Linked DNA regions of Homo sapiens. The protein of the gene in region 3 interacts with the protein of the main gene of each other region in a biochemical or structural test. Each region holds a gene or a part of one and is shown on either strand. Other genes may lie near its edges.

The links. The genes of interacting proteins can lie anywhere in the genome.
Region 1: the proteins of NOTCH3 (region 3) and WDR25 form a complex in vitro, tested with the Homo sapiens proteins (one study listed by BioGRID).
Region 2: the proteins of NOTCH3 (region 3) and XKR8 form a complex in vitro, tested with the Homo sapiens proteins (one study listed by BioGRID).

What each region holds. Positions count from the first base shown.
Region 1 is NC_000014.9:100,379,036-100,386,855, reverse strand, and holds part of WDR25 (WD repeat-containing protein 25), read right to left. Parts: intron 5,947-7,820; 5' UTR 5,932-5,946; coding exon 5,110-5,931; intron 1-5,109.
Region 2 is NC_000001.11:27,954,854-27,963,343, forward strand, and holds the start of XKR8 (XK-related protein 8), read left to right. Parts: upstream 1-5,119; 5' UTR 5,120-5,216; coding exon 5,217-5,509; intron 5,510-8,490. Other genes in the region: SMPDL3B (acid sphingomyelinase-like phosphodiesterase 3b), read left to right, coding at 831-1,011, 1,096-1,229, 3,623-3,985.
Region 3 is NC_000019.10:15,157,911-15,163,638, forward strand, and holds the end of NOTCH3 (neurogenic locus notch homolog protein 3 precursor), read right to left. Parts: intron 4,653-5,728; coding exon 4,555-4,652; intron 3,805-4,554; coding exon 2,752-3,804; 3' UTR 1,128-2,751; downstream 1-1,127. UniProt on the Homo sapiens protein: Functions as a receptor for membrane-bound ligands Jagged1, Jagged2 and Delta1 to regulate cell-fate determination.

The DNA of each region.
Region 1 (7,820 bases), on a different chromosome or scaffold from region 3:
AGTGGTGCGATCTGGGCTCACTGCAAGCTCCGCCTCCTGGGTTCATGCCATTCTCCTGCCTCAGCCTCCCGAGCAGCTGGGACTACAGCCGCCCACCACCGCGCCCGGCTAATTTTTTGTATTTTTAGTAGAGACGGGGTTTCACCATGTTAGCCAAGATGGTCTCAATCTCCTGACCTCGTGATCCGCCTGCCTCGGCCTCCCAAAGTGCTGGGATTACAGGCATGAGCCACCGCGCCTGGCCTCAAAGCCCATCTTAACTGCATTAAGGCAGCAAAAAAAGACAATATTTATGTATAGCCATATTCACTGTAATACTGATTATTTTTTAAACAAAAGCAGGAAATTATAGGAAACAACATGGAAATGATGGAGCAAAGTATGAAACTTGAGACAGTTATAAAAATATATTTGGGGAAAAGTTTTTAATAAGGTAGAAAAATTCCCCTTACACGTTACAGAAGATTGGGCAGCAGAGGAAGAATTCAAAACTGCACATACTATGCAATAAGCCCAATTATGTAAACAGATAGGAATGTAGGGCCCCCGACCAGGGAGGCCCCTCATGTTAATGAGGCACTGACTTGGGGTTGGGAGTTATCAATGATTTCTGTTTCTCCTTCATACTTCATATTTCCTGCATCATTAAAGTTTTTCACAATAAGCATCTATTACATTCATGGTCAAAAATTAAAAGGTTTTTTTTCAAAGTATTTTAAGGAAGCTTGTTACTGAAAGAATTTCTAGAGCAAATTATTCTGTAAAGCAAATAAACAACATCTAATTCATATATTTTCTTTAAAAACCTTCTGTGTTTCAGAACTGCAGGTTTTCATACAGGTACAGAAGGTCCCTGGTGGGTCTTCTGTCACCCACCCAAAGGTCTTATTCCTTTGGGACTCCCTCTCAGTGCCTGGCAGAGGGTTCTGTACATGGGAGCATTCAATAACGGCTGGTTGTGTTTTTGGTTAACGCAGGCCACGTACATGTTTTCCTTCAAAAAAAGGCATCAAAGTCTGAATTTCTACCTTTACGTGCAGTGGGTGTTCAAACACGTTAAGCCAAAAGAGTTCACTGGGAGATGAAAAGAGTATATAAAAGGGTATCCGTGCTGGGATCACAGCTATGAAAAAAACAAGCACGTTCACAGACAAGGGGAGGAAGGGATCGTCAGGAAAGAGCAGCGGTGCAGAATTATGAGTCATTGTTTTATTTTACTTAATTTCTCTAGCTGTAAATTTTTCAAAACTAATAAAAGCATATTTTACAGCTCACAGAACATTTAGAACATATTAAAATAAGTATCTTTCCACTGTAATGTGTCCAGTTGAAATGTATGAATTCCGAAGCTACGTTTTAAGGATATGAAGGAACTGGCACTCCATGTTCTTTAGATTAATAAGTTGGACTGTGTTGTTTTTCTCCTGATCAGAAAGAAATCATTTTTCAGTAAATGTTACCTTGAATCAAGGATTCTTCCACATTCTAGAAGCTTGGATGAGCTGCTTATATTAAGTCTTACTGTGCACCCTAGTGGCGAATATGATTTATCCACTCAAAAGACAATCCCTTCCCAAAGGCTTGCGATAAAATCCAAAAAATTTGTTTTAATTTTTATCGATCACTTAACATGTACACAATTTTGTGCCAGATGCTGGGGAATATAAAAATGGGTTCTGGCTCAGGAAGCTTAAAGTCTAGTAGGTGAAGCTGATATGCTTCCATGGCTACTTACGTAAAATAAGACATGAGCACAAGTCAAGGAAAGGAGGAAATTCTTGGGGAAAAGCAGGAACTCGAGCACACACTAAGTGCCTGCTATGTGCCAGGCATTGCACTTGGTGATTCACAACTAATATCGTTTACTTTTCACAAAAACCCAGCGAGGCATGTTTAATTCTCTCCACTTTATAGATACTCAAATGAAGGCTCAGAAGTGAGGTAACTTGCCAGAGACCACGCAACCAAGGGGCTGGCCGTAGAGGAAGGACCCAAGCAGGTCTTGTCACCCAGCCCCCAAGCTCTTCCCTCCTTCCTGATCCAGCAGGGGCCCAGAAGACACTGGCAGATTTTAACCAAAAGGCAGGGGGAAAGCACCCTGGGAAGGGTGTACTGCTGCACCCGCCTCTTTGAGCTCATTCCATGCTGCACCCACCATTTCCTCTCCTCCAGGGACTGGGCTGCAGCCAGCCAGGACTCCTGCCTGTGCCCGAGGCCCTATCCCCACTCCAGACCCACCACCCACACCCACACACTGCCTTCCCCAGATCACCAGGTCCCCAAGATCTGCCATGCTGCCCCACCTCTGACACCAAGGAGGGAAAAGAACACCATGTGCCTCCCAGCCAGGCCACGCACAAACCTGGTGGCCCAGCAAGCCTGAGGCCTCAGCCGGGACTTCTGGCCACAGCTCCTGCCTGGCTCCCCGCCGGTTCCCAATCTGTCTTCCCATCCTGGCTCCTCCAGCCCCTGCCATACACTCTTCACACTGAAAAGTTGTTCAAAGTCAATTTGCCCAAAACCAATTTGCCAAATAACCCCATCACTGAAAACTGACAAATATCTTAAAACAGAGAGGGCCCTGGCCCACCATTTGTATCTATGGCTTATAAAAGCCCTAATGTTCACGACACCACAGTAAAAAAAGAGGGTCAGGAGATGCCAACCCTAGCAGCCATGCTGACCCTGGCCCAACCTCATGACAGCAAATGTGCTCTGCCCTGGGAAGGAACCCAGGGTGCACAGTGCAGTGGGTGGGGCTCCCCAGAAGCTGCCTGGCAGCCCAAGGGGCCCATGCCAGTGTCATCACCTGCAGCACACACAGTCTCCTCGGGACAGGCGGGCACAGCTGCGGCGCCTGGCCCCACCCAGGGCAGCCCCACAGACCCGGACCCAGGTCTCTGAATCGCCCAGGAGCAGGGCATTCCTACCACAGTCCCTCAGTCTGAGCCACCCTCACTGCCATTCCAAGCTGGGCCCACTGCGCCCTCTTCTGGTCATGAGGTGTCACAGTTAGTTGGCTGCTCACAGTTTCCCCTCCATGGGGGCAGAAACGTCTCTCCCCCCACGTCCCCAGTGGCACCGTGCCTGGCACATTTGTCTACTCCACAAGGCCAGAAATCAATGCCTCTACTCAGGTGCTCTCTGCTCAAAAACTACCATGGGGATGCTTCTGTTTAGGAAATCTAAATTTCCCAGGCAAAAGTGACCCAAGCTGCCACTCTGCCAGCAGGGCCCAGGGAGCACTTCACGCCACCAGGCGAAGGCCAGTCCCACAGGGCCCCAGGTCTGCCCCTCACCATCAGGAGAGAGAACTCCAGAGGTGAGCGGGCAGGTAAAAGAAGGCCTCAACAGGAAGGTGAGCACAGGGAGGACAAGGGCCACCACTTGAACTCCAGGGCCAGTCAGACACTGCCCAGGCCCACCAGCAACCCTCCAGATGGGCTTCCCATCCTCCAGCCCTTGCAGCGCAGACTTGGGAAGGAGAGCAGAGAAGCCCCGGGGCCACAGGATCAATCCCAGCATGCTGTGATCCACGCCAGGGATGCCAGAAGCCTCCGCGCACACTTCACAGCCCCCGGAATGGCAGGAAAAGCACCAAAGACCTAAGTGGAAAATCCTGGAACTCCAGGCTGAAGAGAGAATATGACGTTCTCTCCCACAGGACTCTGAGTCTTGCTAGAAAAGAGCACAGACAAGCCACTTCAGGACTCCAGTTCGCCACTTAAAAATGCCACCCATCAATTCAGCTCATTTCAAAGACATCTCTATACTTGGAGCTTCCTTTCTTCACTTAAGAAAATGTTTCCGAGGGAGAAAAGCTCAAAATGTAATTTGCAAGAGAAAAGATGTAGGAAAGTTGGTTCCAGAACTCTGAGGAAACAAGGGCAAGGGAACCACCATTTACTGAGCGCCTATGAGGTACCTGGCTCTGTGCAAGGCACTTTTTCAGCATTTTTCTCACATGAGCACATGACCCAGGTATGATTTTGCCCTTTTACAAATGAGACACTAGACTCCACAGGAAGGCAGCCGGCCAGTGGTCGACCAGCTAGCTACTCTGCAGCAAAGCTGGATGTGAAGCCAGGTCCCTTGAAGTTATTTCCTTTCCAAGAGCTTTCTGTTCAGCTAGCATTTAGTTGGCACCCGCTACATATCAGGTGCTTTGCTAGCTGCGAGGAGAGAGAGGAGGGATGCAGTGCACAGCTCGAAGGGCTGGAGACAGGTCCCAGGTGGGCACAACGACCTATCACACTGTACCTCCATACTGGGGGACTACATTACTATCACTTCAGTAGCCTGTAAAATAAATAAGACAATGCAAAAAAGAGTTTCCATGTAAAACCAGAAGTCCCCAGAAGGGCACGTGCAACCTTCCCTGACCTTGCTTCCCCAGCCTCAAGTCCCTCACCCACACATGCTTGAAGCCAGCTCCCAGGCCCTCATGCTTGGAGCCAACACATACACAGGGCTCCTGCAGCCAAGCACGCCCTTCTGCCCCCATCCCCAAGCGAACCTTCCCCTTCCTCAGGAGGCCTTCACTGAGCCCTGCCGGGCTGGGCTGGTAACCCTCCCGTTGGGCTCCCAGAGCACCTGTGTGTCCTACTGGGGGCCGTCCTCACAGCTCAGGGTTGAGTCTGTGTACTTGTCCACGGCTCCCGCCTCACTGTGCAAGCCCTGACACCAGGGGCTGGGTCTACCTACCTCTCCCAACAGCCCTTGAAACCAGCACAGCACCAGGCACAGAGCTGGCATGGCTCAATGCTCCACAGGGTCACCGAGGATGTCCCCAGTCCCCAGGGCTTGGTCCTGGGCCTGCTTTTCTTCTCCCACTAATCACTCTCACCTCCTCCCTCACGGCCTCCGAGAGGGATAAGAAACAGTATCCTCTGGTAACCTGAGCAAGGCAGCATCAGGGAAGGGTTGGGGCAGAAGGAACCCACAACCCGGAGCTGACCACAGATGACCCTTTCTGGAATGCAACAAAGGGAATTACAGAAATCTGCACACAAAAAAAAGTTCAGCCTGTAACCTCCCTCCACTTCACTATTATTCCAGCAGTGTATTCCTAAGAGCATCTGAAAGCAGAAGTTTTCATTCAAGTCTTACCTTGAAAGTTTTATCCATAGAAGTGGAGAGAAGCATGTGGCTCTTAGAAAGGACTGGACACCACTGAATGGTGTTGACAGGGCCCCTGTGGCCTCTCAGGTGGAAAAGCACTTTCCGGGGAACTGTGGTTTCTTTATAATGGCTATTCAAATATGGCTGAATAAACTCAGACACTCCCGGGCCCACGTAGAGAGGGGCTGGGGCACGCCCTGCAGGGGGCCCCTGTGGCTCCACGTCTTTACCCTTGCCTGTCTCCGTGCTTAATGCCTGCCGCTGTCTTAGTCTTCTGGGAGTATAGGGTACCACACAGTCCTCACATTTTTTCTTCTGAAAAGAGCTGCCATTTTTACCTACGGTTTCAGACTCACTTTGAGCATGGAAAGATGACTTGGGAAAGTTCCTGGAGAGTTTTACTTGCTTAAAGCGGGCAGCTGCCAGGGGCATGTGGCTGGCTGGAACATGGCTCGTCCACAGAGAAGAACAAGAAGGCTCTTTGATGGGGAAGGTGACTTGAGGCTCCTTCCCGGGCCACTGTAGCCTCTGGCTGGGGCAAGATCCCCAATCGCTTCTCCCAAGCTGAGCCAATGGAAGGCGATAGCCCCCTGGGTCTTCACAGGAGCCATGCTTTGTGGGCTGTGCCCCTGCTTTGGGCACATCCAGTGTACCAGATGCAAAATCCTGCCCAGGTGGTCTGGCCACACCAGAAGTGTCTTTCTGCTGGCCGGTAGCATTAAAACTTCCTGCATGCTCTGTCTCAGCCTCCGAGTCCGAATCATCATACGCTACCAATGAAGCCATTAAAGACAGAGTTCTTGCTGTCATTCAAAGCCAAACCACCTAAGATCAAACAAGGTCAACCGTCAGAAAATGTGCATGGAAGAATATGTATGTAGTTATAAGAAACCATGTCACCTAGGAAATCCAATAACTCAACACTCATAAGAATAAACACAGGCCAGGCGTGGTGGCTCACGCCTGTAATCCCAGCACTTCAGGAGGCCGAGGTGGGTGGATAACCTGAGATCAGGAGTTCGAGACCAGCCTGGCCAACATGGTGAAACCCCGTCTCTACTAAAAATACAAAAAGTAGCGAGGCAGGGTGGCAGGCACCTGTAGTCCCAGCTACTCGGGAGGCTGAGGCAGGAGATCGCTTGAACCTGGGAGGCGGAGGTTGCAGTGAGCAGAAATTGTGCCACTGCACTCCAGCCTGGTCAACAAGAGCGAGACTCTGACTCAAAAAAAAAAAAGAAAGAAAAAGAATAAATACAAAAACAAAAAAGGCTTTTCTACATATCAGGCCCAATTAGTTAGAAGATAAAATTTTTGAAATTGAAACTATGGAATAGCTGGGGGTAAATCTGTAAAAAATAAGCAAGACCTACATGAAGACTTATAGTAAGTCTGGGTGCAGTGGTTCACACCTGTAATCCCAGCATTCTGGGAGGCTGAGGTGGGCGGATCACTTGAGGTGAGGAGTTCGAGACCAGCCTGGCCAACATAGTGACACCCCATCTCAAGTAAAAATACAAAAATTAGCCAGGCCTGGTGGCACACAACTGTAATCCCAGCTACTTGGGAGGCTGAGGCAGGAGAATCTCTTGAACCCAGGAGGTGGAGGTTGCAATGACCTGAGATTGCACCACTGCACTCCAGCCTGGGTGCCAGAGGGAGACTCCATCTCAAAAAGAGAAAAGAAAAGAAAAAAGCGCTGGGTGCAGTGGTTCATGCCTGTAATCCCAGCACTTTGGGAGGCCAAGGCGGGGGGAATCACAAGGTCAGGAGCTCAAGAGCAGCCTGGCCAACATAGTGAAACCCCATCTCTACTAAAAATACAAAAATTAGCCAGGCGTGGTGGCACGCACCTGTAGTCCCAGCTACTCGGGAGGCTGAAGCAGGAGAATCACTTGAACCCAGGAGGCGGAAGTTGCAGTGAACCGAGATTGTGCCACTGCACTCCAGACTGGGTGACAGAGTGAGACTCTGTCTCAAAAAAGTAAAATTAAAAAAAAAAAAGGAAAGAAAACTAAAACTTTTATTGAAGGACATAAAAGAAGACCTAGGCTGGGCGTGATGGCTCACACCTGAAATCCCAGCACTTTGGGAGGCCAAGGTTGGTGGATCACCTGAGGTCAGGAGTTCAAGACTAGTCTGACCAATATGGCAAAGCCCCGTCTCTACTAAAAATACAAAAATTAGCCGGACATGGTGGCAGGCGCCTGTAGTCCCAGCTACTTGAGAGGCTGAGACAGAAGAATTGCTTGAACCCGGGAGGTGGAGGTTGCAGTGAGCTGAGATCATGCCACTGCACTCTAGCCTGAGTGACAGAGCAAGACTCCATCTCAAAAAAAAAAAAAAAGAAAAAAAAAGAAGACCTGAAGAGACAATGCCTACAGAGAAAGAGACAGGACTTTAAAAATGCCTTTGGAAGGTCCATTTTGGTCATATGTGTTACAAGTTTAAACACATCATTTTCACCCCAGCAACCCCACTGTAGAACTTTATCCTACACAAATACTAGCATATGTTTGCTAGATGTATAAATCCATGAAGATAAATGTATAAAGAAAACCTGCCGCACTGCTTATTAGCAACAAGTGAGAACATATGCTCATCATCATGAACGAGGGTAGGTCTGAAAATACTGAAATCAAAAGACGTCCAGGATCCATGGTGGGAAAGGCCTGCCACTTTCCCCTGCACCCTTTCCCTGT
Region 2 (8,490 bases), on a different chromosome or scaffold from region 3:
TGTGCCAGATCTCCAGGGGATGCCCTGCCCTTGAGTGTGTCCAGCTAGCCTGCTGGCCTGACAGCTCCTCAAGGACTGGCTCAGTGTCTCATTTGCCCAAGTCCTTGCACTGACCAGCCCATCCCAAGAGGATCTCACAGCTGGTGCCCATGAGCATGCACTATGCCAACATTGGGCACGTTGTTTAGGACATTATGCGGATGATCTCAGGTAGCAGAACTATGGAAACCCCGGCTCAGTAGCGAGTCCATCATTCTCAAAACCCCACCAGCTATGTGCTATTCCAGATGAGAAAACAGCAGCTCAGAGAGGTGATACACAGCTGGTGTCTAAGCTGCAGTCTGACTCCAAAACTCATACATTTAACTCTGTCCCCTGTTCTAACTCCTGCCATGGTGGCCAAGTGCCCAGGTGTTGTCAGATGAGTGACTCAAGGAATGTAAGAAACGAATGCACATTACCGTGTAGCATATCACACAACCACGCAAGAATGGTTTCGTTGCAGTGTTCAAGCTCTCCAAGAGAAGAGTAGTCTTTGAAGGATTAGGAAAGCTTCATGGGGGAGGTGCTCTTTGAAGTGTGGGGAGGATTTACAGAAGTGAAAAGGAGAAGGGTACTCCAGGTGGCAGGCACAGAGGTGGGAAGGTATGTGGTGCATTCATTGCAGGGCACAGGGAGAAAGTGGGACATGGAATCCGGGAGGCCTTCAGGGAGGAGATACATTTGGGCCTGTCTACCTGCCTTTGGGGCAATTTGCAGGTTTTGAGAAGTAGAAATGAGGGTCTGGAGAGGGCATCTGTGAGCCTCTTCTGGGAACCCCTCCCTTGTAGGTGTACATTGTCGGCCACGTGCCCCCGGGGTTCTTTGAGAAGACGCAAAACAAGGCATGGTTCCGGGAGGGCTTCAATGAAAAATACCTGAAGGTGGTCCGGAAGCATCATCGCGTCATAGCAGGGCAGTTCTTCGGGCACCACCACACCGACAGCTTTCGGATGCTCTATGATGATGCAGGTATTCAACCTGGAGGGCAACTGCCAGCTCCCTCCCTCCTTCTCTCCCCAGACCCGCTCAGTCCTGCTGTCTCTCTCCTGACAGGTGTCCCCATAAGCGCCATGTTCATCACACCTGGAGTCACCCCATGGAAAACCACATTACCTGGAGTGGTCAATGGGGCCAACAATCCAGCCATCCGGGTGTTCGAATATGACCGAGCCACACTGAGCCTGAAGGTCAGGAGTCCTGCGGAGGCCAGAGGAGGAGGGTGGGAGGGGCTTAAATGCATCACCACCTTCCCTCACTCTCAGCTTATCCACCTTCCCCTGACCACTGAGCCTCAGGAAGGTTGAGCTCCTTCCACCCTTCTCCAGCTCAGGATCAGAACCCTGGAGGCACCTGCCACCGAGTCAGGGCAGTGCCTCACCAAGTCACCTTTTCCCCTGGATGACTGTCACAGCTTCATACCTGGTCTCCCTGCCTCTGGCCCTGCCCTGCTATGGCCCATCCGCTACACAAGAGAGAAGAAACTAATCTCCTATAGCACCACTTTCATCTTGTCTCCGTCCTGCTCAAAAACCTTCAGTGGCTCCCCAGTGCCTTCAAGATAAAGTTGTGTCTCCTTGACCTAGTACTCAAGGCTTCCCACAGTCTGACTTCAAGCCCATTGTCCACATTTTCCGTACACAGACGAGGCTCCAGCCCCTAATTCTTTGGGCAGTCCCTCACCTCGTAGGATGAGCTTGTGGTTGTTGAGATGAAAAATATTATTCCTTTATTTATCCAACAAAATGCATTAAGTGTGTGCCATTGGCCAGGCCCTGTTCTAATCTCAGAAGATATGTAAATTTAAAAACAAAGTCACCCCTCTCCTGGACCTGACATCTTACAGGAGAGGGACAATAAATATGTAGAATTAATTATAGTACTGAGAGAAGGGCTAAGGAGAAAATCAAAACAGTGAGGCGACAGGGTGACAGCTATGGGAGGTGTGTACTGTGTTAGATAGGTGGGAAGGGGAAGTGTCCACATAAGGTGCCATTTGAGTTCTGAGTGTATTGAGGGAGGGAGCCCAGTGGGTATCTTGGGGAGGTGGAGGGAACAGCAAGTCAAAGGCCCCGGGGTGGGAATGTGCGTGGTAGGTTAGGGGAAGAGCACGGAGGCCATGTGGCCACAGTAAGAGGCACAAGGGGAGAGTGGGAGGGGAGGTCCGATCTTGCAGGCCTCCATGAGGACTCTGGATTTGGAGGGTTTTGCGCAGAAGAATGAAATCCTGTGACTTATAATTTTATGGAATCATCATGTCTGCTGTGCAGGGAACAGGCTGTAGGGGCAGGTGGGGGAGCAGTGAGGCCGTTTGGAGGGAAGGACAAATCCCAGATGACAGGATAGTAGCTTGCCCAGGGTGGAGGCAGTGAGATGGTGAAAAGTGCCAGGTCCCAGATGAATTCTGGATGCAGGATTTGCTAGAGTGGATATGAGCTGTGAGAAAAAGGGACGAATCCAGGAGGCTTCCAAGGCTCTTGGCCTGTGCAACGGTAGGCTGTGGCTGCCGATTACTGAGATAAGTGGCAGGGTGATCAGGCTTCGGAGGGTCAGTCAGAGGTCTTGTTTTGGACCTGTTACCTTTGGGAGGGCTAAATGGCATCAAGTGAAAGTGGACAGGGAAGGGGCAAGTTGGAGCTTGAAGAGGTGAGGATAGAGATGTGATCTGGGAGTGGAGAGAGGACATTTAAAGCCAACGACTGCATGAGCTAACCCAGGTCCTTGATTCTAGTAAAGGTAGATTAAGAAGAGGTCTGAGGGGTTTAAAGAGTGGCCTGTTGTCCACATGGGCACTCCAAGGGTCTGAGCAAGGGGAATGGCAGGCTGCACCATCACCCCCTAACAGGCCCTCCATTCTCCTCAGGGAGGGAGTCAGCCCTGAGCTTGAATCCTGGCTCCACCACTCATAAGCTTTTTGATCTTTTGACCTCTGTGCCTCACTTGCTTCATCTGTAAAATGGGAGTAACAGAACCTCGCAGGGTTTGAGGAGGACTACATGAAATAATGGAATGTTCCTGGCACAGAGTGGCCATGCATACGGGCAGCTCCTCTTACCCCGTCTGCAGTGGCCTGAAGCAGGTTCATAAATGTACCTGGAACCCGCTGGACTGATGAACCCTGCAGAGTCTAGCCGTGAACATGCACCTGGGTCCTAGGAGTCTACAGTTCATAATCTCTCTCATGCTTAGTGTTGCTCTTTTTATGTTGCTTTTATCTATTCATTATGTAAATATTTACTGAGCGTCTTCTATGTGTACCCTAGCATGGTGGGACCTGGGGTAAACCTGGGGTCCAATCCTGCTACCACTGAATACCTGTATGAATACCTGTATGACCCTGGCCAAGTGAATTAACCTCTTTAGGCCTCAGTTTCCTCATTTGTGAAACCTAGGTAATAAGCGCAGTTACCTCATTCGATTCAGAGGATGTCTGCCAAGCACAATGGGTGCACAGCTAAGTGCTCAATAACTACTAGTGGTCATGGTCACTGCTCTAAAGAACTTGGGGGCAAATGCAAGGTGCAGGATGGGGATGGAAGCAGACAACTGCTCACAGCCGGTCTACCCCAAACCCTTTTTCCAGGACATGGTGACCTACTTCATGAACCTGAGCCAGGCGAATGCTCAGGGGACGCCGCGCTGGGAGCTCGAGTACCAGCTGACCGAGGCCTATGGGGTGCCGGACGCCAGCGCCCACTCCATGCACACAGTGCTGGACCGCATCGCTGGCGACCAGAGCACACTGCAGCGCTACTACGTCTATAACTCAGTCAGCTACTCTGCTGGGGTCTGCGACGAGGCCTGCAGCATGCAGCACGTGTGTGCCATGCGCCAGGTGGACATTGACGCTTACACCACCTGTCTGTATGCCTCTGGCACCACGCCCGTGCCCCAGCTCCCGCTGCTGCTGATGGCCCTGCTGGGCCTGTGCACGCTCGTGCTGTGACCTGCCAGGCTCACCTTCTTCCTGGTAACGGGTAACGGGGGCAGCGCCCAGGATCACCCAGAGCTGGGCCTTCCACCATTTCCTCCGCGCCTGAGGAGTGAACTGAAATAGGACAACCGAATCAGGAAGCGAAGCCCCAGGAGCTGCAGCCATCCGTGATCGCGCCACTGCACTCCAGCCTGGGTGACAAAGCCAGACTCTCTCCAAAAACAAACCAGAAACAGAAAAGAAATGACGACCCAAGACCCCCCTACAAGCATACTTCTTTTGCGTATTATGTTTAACTCACAAAACAAAGCTCATCATGCGTTTGATTCTGTGTTGTGTTCCTTTTCTTTTCTTTTGAGACGGAGTCTCGCTCTGTCGCCCAGGCCGGAGTGCAGTGGCGCTATCTCGGCTCTCTGCAACCTCTGCCTCCCGGGTTCAAGCGATTCTCCTGCCTCAGCCTCCTAGCTGGGACTACAGGCGCGCGCCAACACGCCCGACTAATTTGTATTTTTAGTAGAGACGGGGTTTCGCCATGTTTGCCAGGCTGGTCTCGAACTCCTGACCTCAGGTGATCCGCCCGCCTGGGCCTCCCAAAGTGTTGGGATTACAGGCGTGAGTCACCGCGCCCGGCCTCTATTCCCTTCCGTATGGAAATGAGGTTAACTCATTTGCAGGAACCTAACGCCCGCCCTCCCCCGACTCGGATCGCTGGCGTGAACCCAGCGGCCCCGTGCTCTCCGGGTATCCCTGGATCGAGGCGCACGCGTTGTTGCAAAGTCTCGCACTTAGGGATTAGAATGTGCCTTTGCGTTTCGTTTTGTTTTGCAACAATACAGGTGTGAGGGATCGCAGCCCTGGTCCAGGCTCTAGTCTCCCCGCCCTCTCGCTTTCTTGGGCCTCCGGGCGCCTCAAAGGTAAAACTAGGCCATTTGAAGCCTGCGAAGCGAAGGGCAGTCGGTCTTCAGGCCTAGCGGGCTTGGCTGGGCTGGGTCGGTGGACCCCTGGGCTGGCGGCGGGAGCAGAGCATCGAGCGGCTTTTAGCTGGGGTTCGGGCGGAGGACCTGGGACAACCGCGGGCCTCGCTCCTCCCCGGACGGGGCGGGACGGGGAAGTCCCGCCCACCAGGCCCAGGCCCCGGGCCGCCCCGAGGGCTGCGCCCACCTCCTTCCTGCCTCGGCAACCCCGGGCCCTGAGGGCAGGCCCCAACCGCGGAGGAGCAGGAGAGGGCGGAGGCCGGCGGGCCATGCCCTGGTCGTCCCGCGGCGCCCTCCTTCGGGACCTGGTCCTGGGCGTGCTGGGCACCGCCGCCTTCCTGCTCGACCTGGGCACCGACCTGTGGGCCGCCGTCCAGTATGCGCTCGGCGGCCGCTACCTGTGGGCGGCGCTGGTGCTGGCGCTGCTGGGCCTGGCCTCCGTGGCGCTGCAGCTCTTCAGCTGGCTCTGGCTGCGCGCTGACCCTGCCGGCCTGCACGGGTCGCAGCCCCCGCGCCGCTGCCTGGCGCTGCTGCATCTCCTGCAGCTGGGTTACCTGTACAGGTGAGTGCTTCGCCCCGGGAGGGGAGGAGTGTCGGAGCCCAGCACCTCCGTCAGCTGGGTCACCTGTACAGGTGACACGCCATATGCCGGGAAGGGGACTGGGAGAGGGAACCAAGTCCTGTGGGCGCCTGGCCTACAGGTGAGCGTGCAGCCCTTTACGGAAAGGGAATCCCGGTAGACTGCCTTCATTCTAGCCCTAGCTTTCCTGGCACAGGCGAAGAAACTGAGGCCCAGGGAAGAAAGGGAGGCGCATGGGCTTTGAAGTCGGACCTCTCAGGGATCCACTTCTGGCTTTGCCCCCTCTCGCCTCACTTCTGCATTTCTCTGAGCCTCAGTTTCCTCCTGCGTAGAAAGGAGGTAGTCACCCTGAGACAGGTGTGACGGGCAGGCCTGTTGTGAAGAGTGAGCGAAAGAATGAGAAAGTGCCTCGCACAGTGCCTGGCCTGTAATGGCAGGGGCTGCGGACTCAGTTCAGCATCCCATGTTTCAGCATGGGCAGGGCCTTGGGAAGTCACTGACCTCTCAGTGGGGCTGTTTGGTTGCTGTTCCCATTGGGATGGGGATAGCGCCTGCCCGTTTGGTGAAGATGCAGTGAAATGACATCTGTCCACTGCCCTGGCTCAGAGTGAGCACTCAGCAACCTCAGCTGGCTTCTTGACCTGGGCCTCCCTGGGAGTTTCAGCAGCCCTGACCCCACCACAGCGCTTGCCCCTCACAAAGGCCGCCTCTCACCCTGTCTGCCTGGTTGTATTCTTCCCCCTGAAACTTGGCTTCCCACCCCAGACCCAGCAAGAGGGCAGAGATGGCCTCTGACTCATCCATGCCCATGGAGCCAGCCAGGGCTGGGCATAGGCTGGGTCCTGGAAAATGTGTGTGGATTCTGCTCCTTTTTGGACCTGGTGGAGCCTCGTAGAGATGGGAAAACAAACCCAAGGCTCAGAGGCATGCGACAAAGTCAGGGCAGAGGGTGGTGTGGGTTGGGATGGGGTGGCCAGGGCCAGGATCTGCTCTTGAATCCGTTTTTACAAACTCTTGAGATCTGGCCTTGACAAAGCCACACGGAGTCTCCAGGAGTGGAAGAGAGGAGCTTTGAATGTGGCAGTTTTGCCTGAGGGATTATAGAGACATCAGAAAACCCCGGGTGGGCATGAAGGGGTGCAGTTGTTAAGTCCTGGGCAGGCCTCCATGAGCCGTGAATCTGTAACTACCTTATGCATCTTTGTGGCCAATATTTCTGCTGAGCTTGAGTCAGACAGACTGTACTAGCTTTGGCTTTGGAAATGGGTCTCTGTTCCTGCCTGTGAATTGGCCGAGGCAGGGGTCCCTGCTAGGTCACTGGGGACCATAGGCAAAGGCTCCTGCTGAGGGAGAACCCCAGCCTGTCCTGCCTGCCTGCTCCTCAGTGTGTTCTTGTGTCCTTCCAGGGGAAGTGACAGTACATGTCTGGTGAATGAGCTTGTGATGAGTGAACGGGGTTCTCTCCCAATAGGCAACTGAGAGCAAAGTTCTGGGTGGAGGGTCCTTGGTGCATCCTCCACTTACTCTTCATGCCAGTGGGTACCCCAGACCTGTCTGTCCAAACTCTGGACTCTCTTAACTCCGCCCCAATCTCCATCCTTAACCACTCAGGGCCAGCCTCTTAAATGGGATCCCTCCTTCCAATCTAACCCTCCTCCAGCCCCTCCCCTGTGTGGCCGGGGCAAGGCAGAGTCTGATTCCATCTGGCCTGTGCCCAGAAGTGCCCAAGAGGCAAATGTCCTCTTGCCCACAGGACCCCAGGAGATCTTGGGCACACTAAAGTTTGAGAACTACTGCCTCAGGCAACTTTATAGCATGCCTTTCCAATTCAGGTTTGGATCCAAATCCTCATTCCAGTACTTATTAGCTGCTTATAATTTTTTGTTTGTTTTTTAAAAAGAGGTAGGGTCTGGTCAGGCTTGGTGGCTCATGCCTGTAATCCTAGCAGTCTGGGAGGCTGACGTGGGTGGATCACTTGAGGTCAGGAGTTTGAGACCAGCCTGCTGAACATGGCAAAAGCTCATCTCTACAAAAATTAGCCAGGTGTGGTGGCGCATGCCTGTAATCCCAGCATCCCAGCTACTCTGGAGGCCGAGGCAGGAGAATCGCTTGAACCTGGGAGGTGGAGGTTGCAGTGAGCCGAGTTTGTGCCACTGCACTCTAGCCTGGGCGACAAGCGACAGATGTAGACTCTGTCTCCAAAAAAAAAGAAAAAAAAAAAGAGAGAGAGAGGCAGGGTCTCTGTTGCCTGGGCTGGAGTGCAGTGGCACAATCAATCATGGCTCACAGTGGCCTTGAACTCCTGGGCTCAAGCTGTCCTCCTGCGTCAGCCTCCTGAGTAGCTTGGACTACAGGCTTGTACCACCACGTCCAACTAATTAAAAAAAATTCTTTGTAGAGATGGGGCTTGCTGTGTTGCCCAGGGTGGTCTCAAACTCCTGGCCTCCAGTGATCCTCTTGCCTTGGCCTGTCAAAATGTTGGGATTACAGGCGCGAGCCACTGCACCCAGACCTTATTAGCTTCTTGATCCTGTTTCCCCATCTGTAAAATGGGCTTTTGTGAGAAGTAAACAGGACAAGGTTTGTGATGAGCTTGGGACAGTGCTTAGCCAGCGGGAGTAGAAGGTGTATTGATCCCCATTTTTGCTTTTTTGTTTTTTTTGAGACGGAGTCTTGTTCTGTCGCCAGGCTGGAGTGCAGTGGCACGATCTCGGCTCACTGTAACCTCCGCCTTGCAGATTCAAGAGATTCTCCTGCCTCAGCCTCCTGAGTAGCTGGGACTACAGGCGCGCACCACCACACCCAGCTAATTTTTTGTATTAGTAGAGACGAGGCTTCACCATGTTAGCCAGGATGGTCTCAATCTCCTGAACTCGTGATCAGCCCGCCTCAGACTCCCAAAGTGCTGGGATTACAGGCATGAGCCACCACACCCGGCCTCGATCCTCATTTTACAGATGAAA
Region 3 (5,728 bases):
TAAACATTTATTAGAAGCTTCCACAGAATTCATGCTTCTGCAAACCTGATTGCCCCTAAATTTAGCACATCAGTAGTTCCAAAGAAGAGACTTTAAGACATGCTTTAAGACAACAACAGGTGTGAATCTGCCTCCCAGATGACAATTGGCAATGTCTGGAGACATGTTATATTGGTTGTCACAACTGGAAAAGGGGTGCTGCTGGTAGCTAATGGGTAGGGACCAGAGATGCTATTAAATATCCTACAATGCACAGGACAGCTCCCCACAGCAAAGAATGATTTGGCCCCAAATGTCAATAATGCCGAAATTAAGAAACCTTAGGTTAGAGGGTGGATACGTGAACCAATTGGAGTCAATAGAAAAATCAACCACAAGGTCGAGTGCGATGACTCATGCCTGTAATCCCAGCACTTTGGGAGGCCAAGGTGGATGGATCACCTGAGGTCCGGAGTTCGAGACCAGCCTGGCCAACATGGTGAAATCCTGTCTCTACTGAAAATACAAAAATTAGCCAGGCATGGAGGTGGACACCTGTAATCCCAGCTACTTGGGAGACTGAGGCAGGAGAATTGCTTGAACCCGGAGGCGGGGGATGCAGTGAGCCGAGATTGTGCCATTGCACTCCAGCCTGGGTGACAAGAACAAGACTCTATCTTAAAAAAAAAAAAAAAAAAAGGAAGAAAGTAAAAGAAAAATCAATCACAATACTAGGAGTTTCTCTCTTCCCTGGAAGGAGCAATATGGCACCTATTTTGATAACACAGAGAGAAGGCTGGAGCTGTGTGATGTCGGGAAGAGAGGTTCTACTGGGTGCCATGTGGAGCATGTAGATGAAACTGATGCCCAGAGAAAGCTGTAGAGATGAAGAGAAACTGAGCCATTGTTGACCACATTTGAGCCACTAGATCAATTCTCCCCTGAAGTAGGTCCTTTTAATTTATATGAGCTAATAAACCCCTTTCTTGTTTAAGCCAGTAGACTTTTGTGTCATTTGCAACCAGGAGCACTCCAACTGACAGAATCAACGAACATTAAATCCTATCCTCCTTTCCTGAAGACACCAGTGTAAACAGAACCTTGTCTTGGAGCACGACTGGTTGCGAGTAACAGAAACCCACCGAAGCTGGCACAAGTAAAGAAGTATTTATTACATGGGTCCAAGGTTATCTCCAAAACCCATAGGAGCATGAAGTAAAAGTGAAATTCATGCAGAACCATGATCAGATACTTAGAAAGCAATTAATAAATACCTGTTGATCTCAATGGAATGAACACTCAATTAACTGGAATTGATAACTGCACTGGGAGCCGAGATAACCCCCCCAGCCCTCAAGGAGCCATTTGAGCTCTCATTTCTGATTCTCCCTGAATATTAGCTTCATTCTTCTGCCCTGTTTGCTTGTCTCTTTGCCCACCACCTCGAATTGGCCACTGATATTTCTAAATCTGATTGTGACCTTAAGAGCTCCACCAACTGACAACTTTCTTAGCCTCTCCATTAAAGAAAGTTCTCGAGCAAAAGAATCTGATTGGCTCAGCTTAAGTCAGGTGACAACCACTAATCCAATCGGTAGTCATCTGCCAAAAGAGGAAGCATAAGTAGACTGGCAAGTCAAATGTATTTACCCCAAGATGGGAGCTCAAGTTAGCCCTGGGTGGGGGAGATAGAAGTCCCACTGCCACCACTCCCCACCTTACCTAGACACAGACCAACAACACTGAGTGTTAACTATTCCTTTATTAGGTGGTGAGGGGAGTGGGGGGCTGTACAATGCAGGGCTTGGGAATTCAGCTACACAGGGATTTTGACCAGAAGCCATATTACAAAAATAGCCTAAAAATACCTCTATTCTGCCATGAGGCTGGGCCAGAGGATTACCAGGAAGAGAAAGTACCACTCAGGCAGCTCCTCTTCTTGTAGTCCCACATTTACAGGGACACAAAGGAATGCATACATCTGCCCTGGCTCCCATTTCCCACCAGCAGCCCCCTAGTTCCCAAAGGGAGATGGCCAAGGGTGGGGCTGGGGCAGAGGGAGTTGGCAGTGGGCCCTTCCCCAGCAAGGCTATGGAACATGTCCCATCTGGAATGCAGTGAAGTGAGGGAGGTGGGGTGGGGAGGAGGCTCCCAACACTCCCCCGACCCCTGGCCCCAGTGGGTGCGCCCAAGGGTGCCTACTTGGTACATACCTGGGTCGTGTACTCGGTACACGGGATCCCAGTCATGCCTGTGTACTAGGTACACAGAATCCAGCTTGGCCGAATGGGCCCACAGACTCAGCCCCACGGGGGCACTGGGGGGTTCACAGGGGGAGGGAGCATCTCCATATATATATTTTGTAAAAAATAATAATAATAAGTTTGTTTAAATGAATTTGTTTCTATACAAAATGTAAAAAAAAAAAGAAAAATAAAAATAATAATAATTCATTCATGTCAGAGTGTAAGGAAATGAGAGGCCAGAAGGAGAGAGAAAGGAATGAGGGAAGAGAGAAGTGGGGAAGAAGGAGGTCCCAGACTCTTCACAAGACTGAGAGGGTGGGTGGTAGCCCCCACCCATTATAAATAAAGGAAGACTGAAGCCCTGGGCTGATGACCTATCTCGGTCACGCTGCAAGGCAAGGATGCAGGAGGGTTGGTGGAAAGAGAAGAGGATGAAAAAGACTAAAAGGAAGGAAGAGACAGAGAAAGAAAGGAGGCAGGACGGGGGTCTCTTTAGGCCCCCAAGATCTAAGAACTGACGAGCGTCTCAGGCCAACACTTGCCTCTTGGGGGTAACTTCCGGCTGGGGCCCCAGCTGGGTCTGGGCCTGAGCAAGGGAGCTGGGAACAGACAAGGGAAGTGGCTGGGCAGGCAGTGCCCCAGTGGTGGTGGCCATGGCCCCAGTGGCAGTGGCTGGGCTAGGCGTGGATTCGGACCAGTCTGAGAGGGAGGGAGGTGAGGGGCTGGCCCAGTGCTCAGGGGATTCGGGGGATGGGGTCAGGTAAGGGTGCTCACTGGGAACCCGCAGGAAGCGGGCCTTTGGGGGGCTGCTGTGTGCCCCAGCCGCCGGGTACTCCTCGCCATGTCCTGGGACTGCCAGGTAAGGCGGGGGCCGCTCCTGCGGGGAGACGGGGGTCCCTGGGTTGAGCAGCTGGGGTCCCGGCGCCAGTGGCAGCAGGAACGAGGGGCCTGGAGGGGCAGGTGGGGGCAGCCGGGCCCAATCGAGGGGCACAGCCACAGGGTTCAGCAGGCCCAGGCTGAGTACACATCCTCCAGGGGGCTGGCGCCCTAGACCCGCCCGGCCTGGGCCACCAAGCTGTGCCAGAGACACTGCAGTGGCAGTGGCAGCTGCATAGGGCCCCTCAAGGGGGAAGCCACCAGGGGAAGCAGGGGGCCCACCGAAAGGCCGCGGGGAGTCCAGCGAGTCCACGGGCGACAGCGTGACCGAGCTGTCAGCCAGGGGGCCCGGGCAGGCCAGCGTCAGCTTCTTGCCCCGCCCCCGGGGCCCCTGCGGCCCCAGCCCCGCCTTCCCGGGGGGCCTCCTGCTCTTCTTGGACCCCGACTGTGCCGCTTTGAGGCCAGGGAGGAAGGCCCCTGGAGGACAGAGCAGAGGCCCCAGGCCGTGGGGACCGGGGGGGCTGCGGGGCCCACTGGGTTGATCCAGCAAGCGCACGATGTCCTGGTGCAGTCTCTCCTGGGCTACGTCCCGCGGCAGCCTGTCCAGGTGGTCGGTGATCTCACGGTTGGCAAAGTGGTCCAACAGCAGCTTGGCAGCCTCATAGCTGCCCTCGCGGGCGGCCAGGAATAGGGGGGTCTCCTCCTGGGGGGCCAGAACCCACAGAGGTCAGCGAAACCCCAGCTAACAGTAGCAAAGTCTTCCAGCCTCTTGGGGGAGCCCGAGAGCTATGAGTTTGTACACTGGAGCTTGACAGACCTGGGTTAAATCCCGGCTGTGCTGGGGGAGCCTGGACAAGTTCTTTCCTCTAAACCACATTCATCCATCACCTACTAAGTGCCAGAGGTCAAGGCCAGGACTAGGGTGAGTTAAGCGAGGTACTCACCTTAGGCATAACTTTTTTTTTCTTGTCTTTTTTTTTTTTTTTTTTTGACAGAGTCTCACTGTGTCGCCCAGGCTGGAGTGCAGTGGCGCCATTTCAGTTCACTGCAACCTCAGCCTTCCGGGTTCAAGCGATTCTCCTGCCTCAGCCTCCCGAGCAGCTGGGACTACAGGTGTGCACCACTACGCCCAGCTAATTTTTGTATTTTTAATAGAGACAGGGTTTTACTACGTTGGCCAGGCTGGTCTCAAACTCCTGAACTCAAGTAATCCACCCATCTCGACCTCCCAAAGTGCTGGGATTATAGGCATGAACCACCACACCCAGCCATTAGGCACAAAATTTAAGGGGCCCCCAAAAACTTTAGTCACCAAAGTAAATTATATTTTAATCCAATGTTTGGGGTTTTATTTTGTTTTGTTTTTTGAGAGAGTCTCACTCTGTTGCCCAGGCTGGATTGCAATGGCACTGTGCCACTGCTGACACCCAGTGGACCAAGGGCTGGGGCTCACCTTGCTATCCTGCATGTCCTTATTGGCTCCATTTTTGAGCAGGGCCAAAGTGGCTTCCACGTTGTTCACAGCCGCAGCCCAGTGTAAGGCTGATTTCCCTGGAGGATGAAGGGGAGAGAGGTCAGGACCAGGCACCTGTCCTGGGGCCCCCATGTCAGGGAGGCAGAAATTGTCTAGAATGTGGCCTAGGGGTAGAGGAGGCAGGCCTGCCGTGAATATCCAAGTACTTGTGTCTGGATCCATGTGTGTGCAAATCTGCAAAATGACTCTGTGCAATGGGGAAGCACTTTGTGTCTGTGTGTGTGTGTTTGTGTGTGTGTGTGTGTGTGCGTGCATGTGCATGACTGTTTATACACAGGGGGTGCTGTGTGGACCTCCTTCAGTTGAACCTAGGGTTGTGACATCCAATACAGTAGTCAGTCACATGTGGTTTTTATTTATCCATTTATTTATTTTTGAGGTAGTGTCTTGTTCTGTCACCCAGGCTGGAGTCCATTGGCACAATCTCAGTTCACTGCAACCTCTACCTGCTGGGCTCAGGCGATTTTCCTGCCTCAGCCTCCCTAGTAGCTGGGACTACAGGCATGTACCACCATGCCCAGCTGATTTTTTGTATTTTTGATAGAGATAGAGTTCCACTATGTTGCCCAAACTGGTCTCAAACTCCTAAGCTCAAGTGATCCACCAGCCTTGGCCTCCCAAAGTGTTGGGATTACAGGCATGAGCCACCGTGCCCAACCTACATGTGGTTCTTTAGATTTAAATTTAATAAAATAGGTGCCAGGACCATTCAATGGGGAAAGAATGGTCTTCTCAACTAATGGTGCTGGAACAACTGAATATTCACATTCAAAGAATGAAGTTGGACCCCTACCTCACACTTTATACAAACACTAACTCAAAATGGATCAGAAACCTAAATATATGAGCTCCAACTATAGAACTAAACATCTAGAAGAAAACATAAGAGTAAATCTTCATGACCTTGAATTAGGCCAAGATTCTTAGATGTGACACCAAAACCACAAATAACAATAACAACTACAAAACAGATAAATTGGACATGATCAAAATTGAAACTTTTGGCCAGGCACAGTGGCTCACGCCTATAATCTCAACAATTTGGGAGGCCAAGGTGGGAGTATTGCTTAAGGCCAGGAGTTTGAGATCAGCC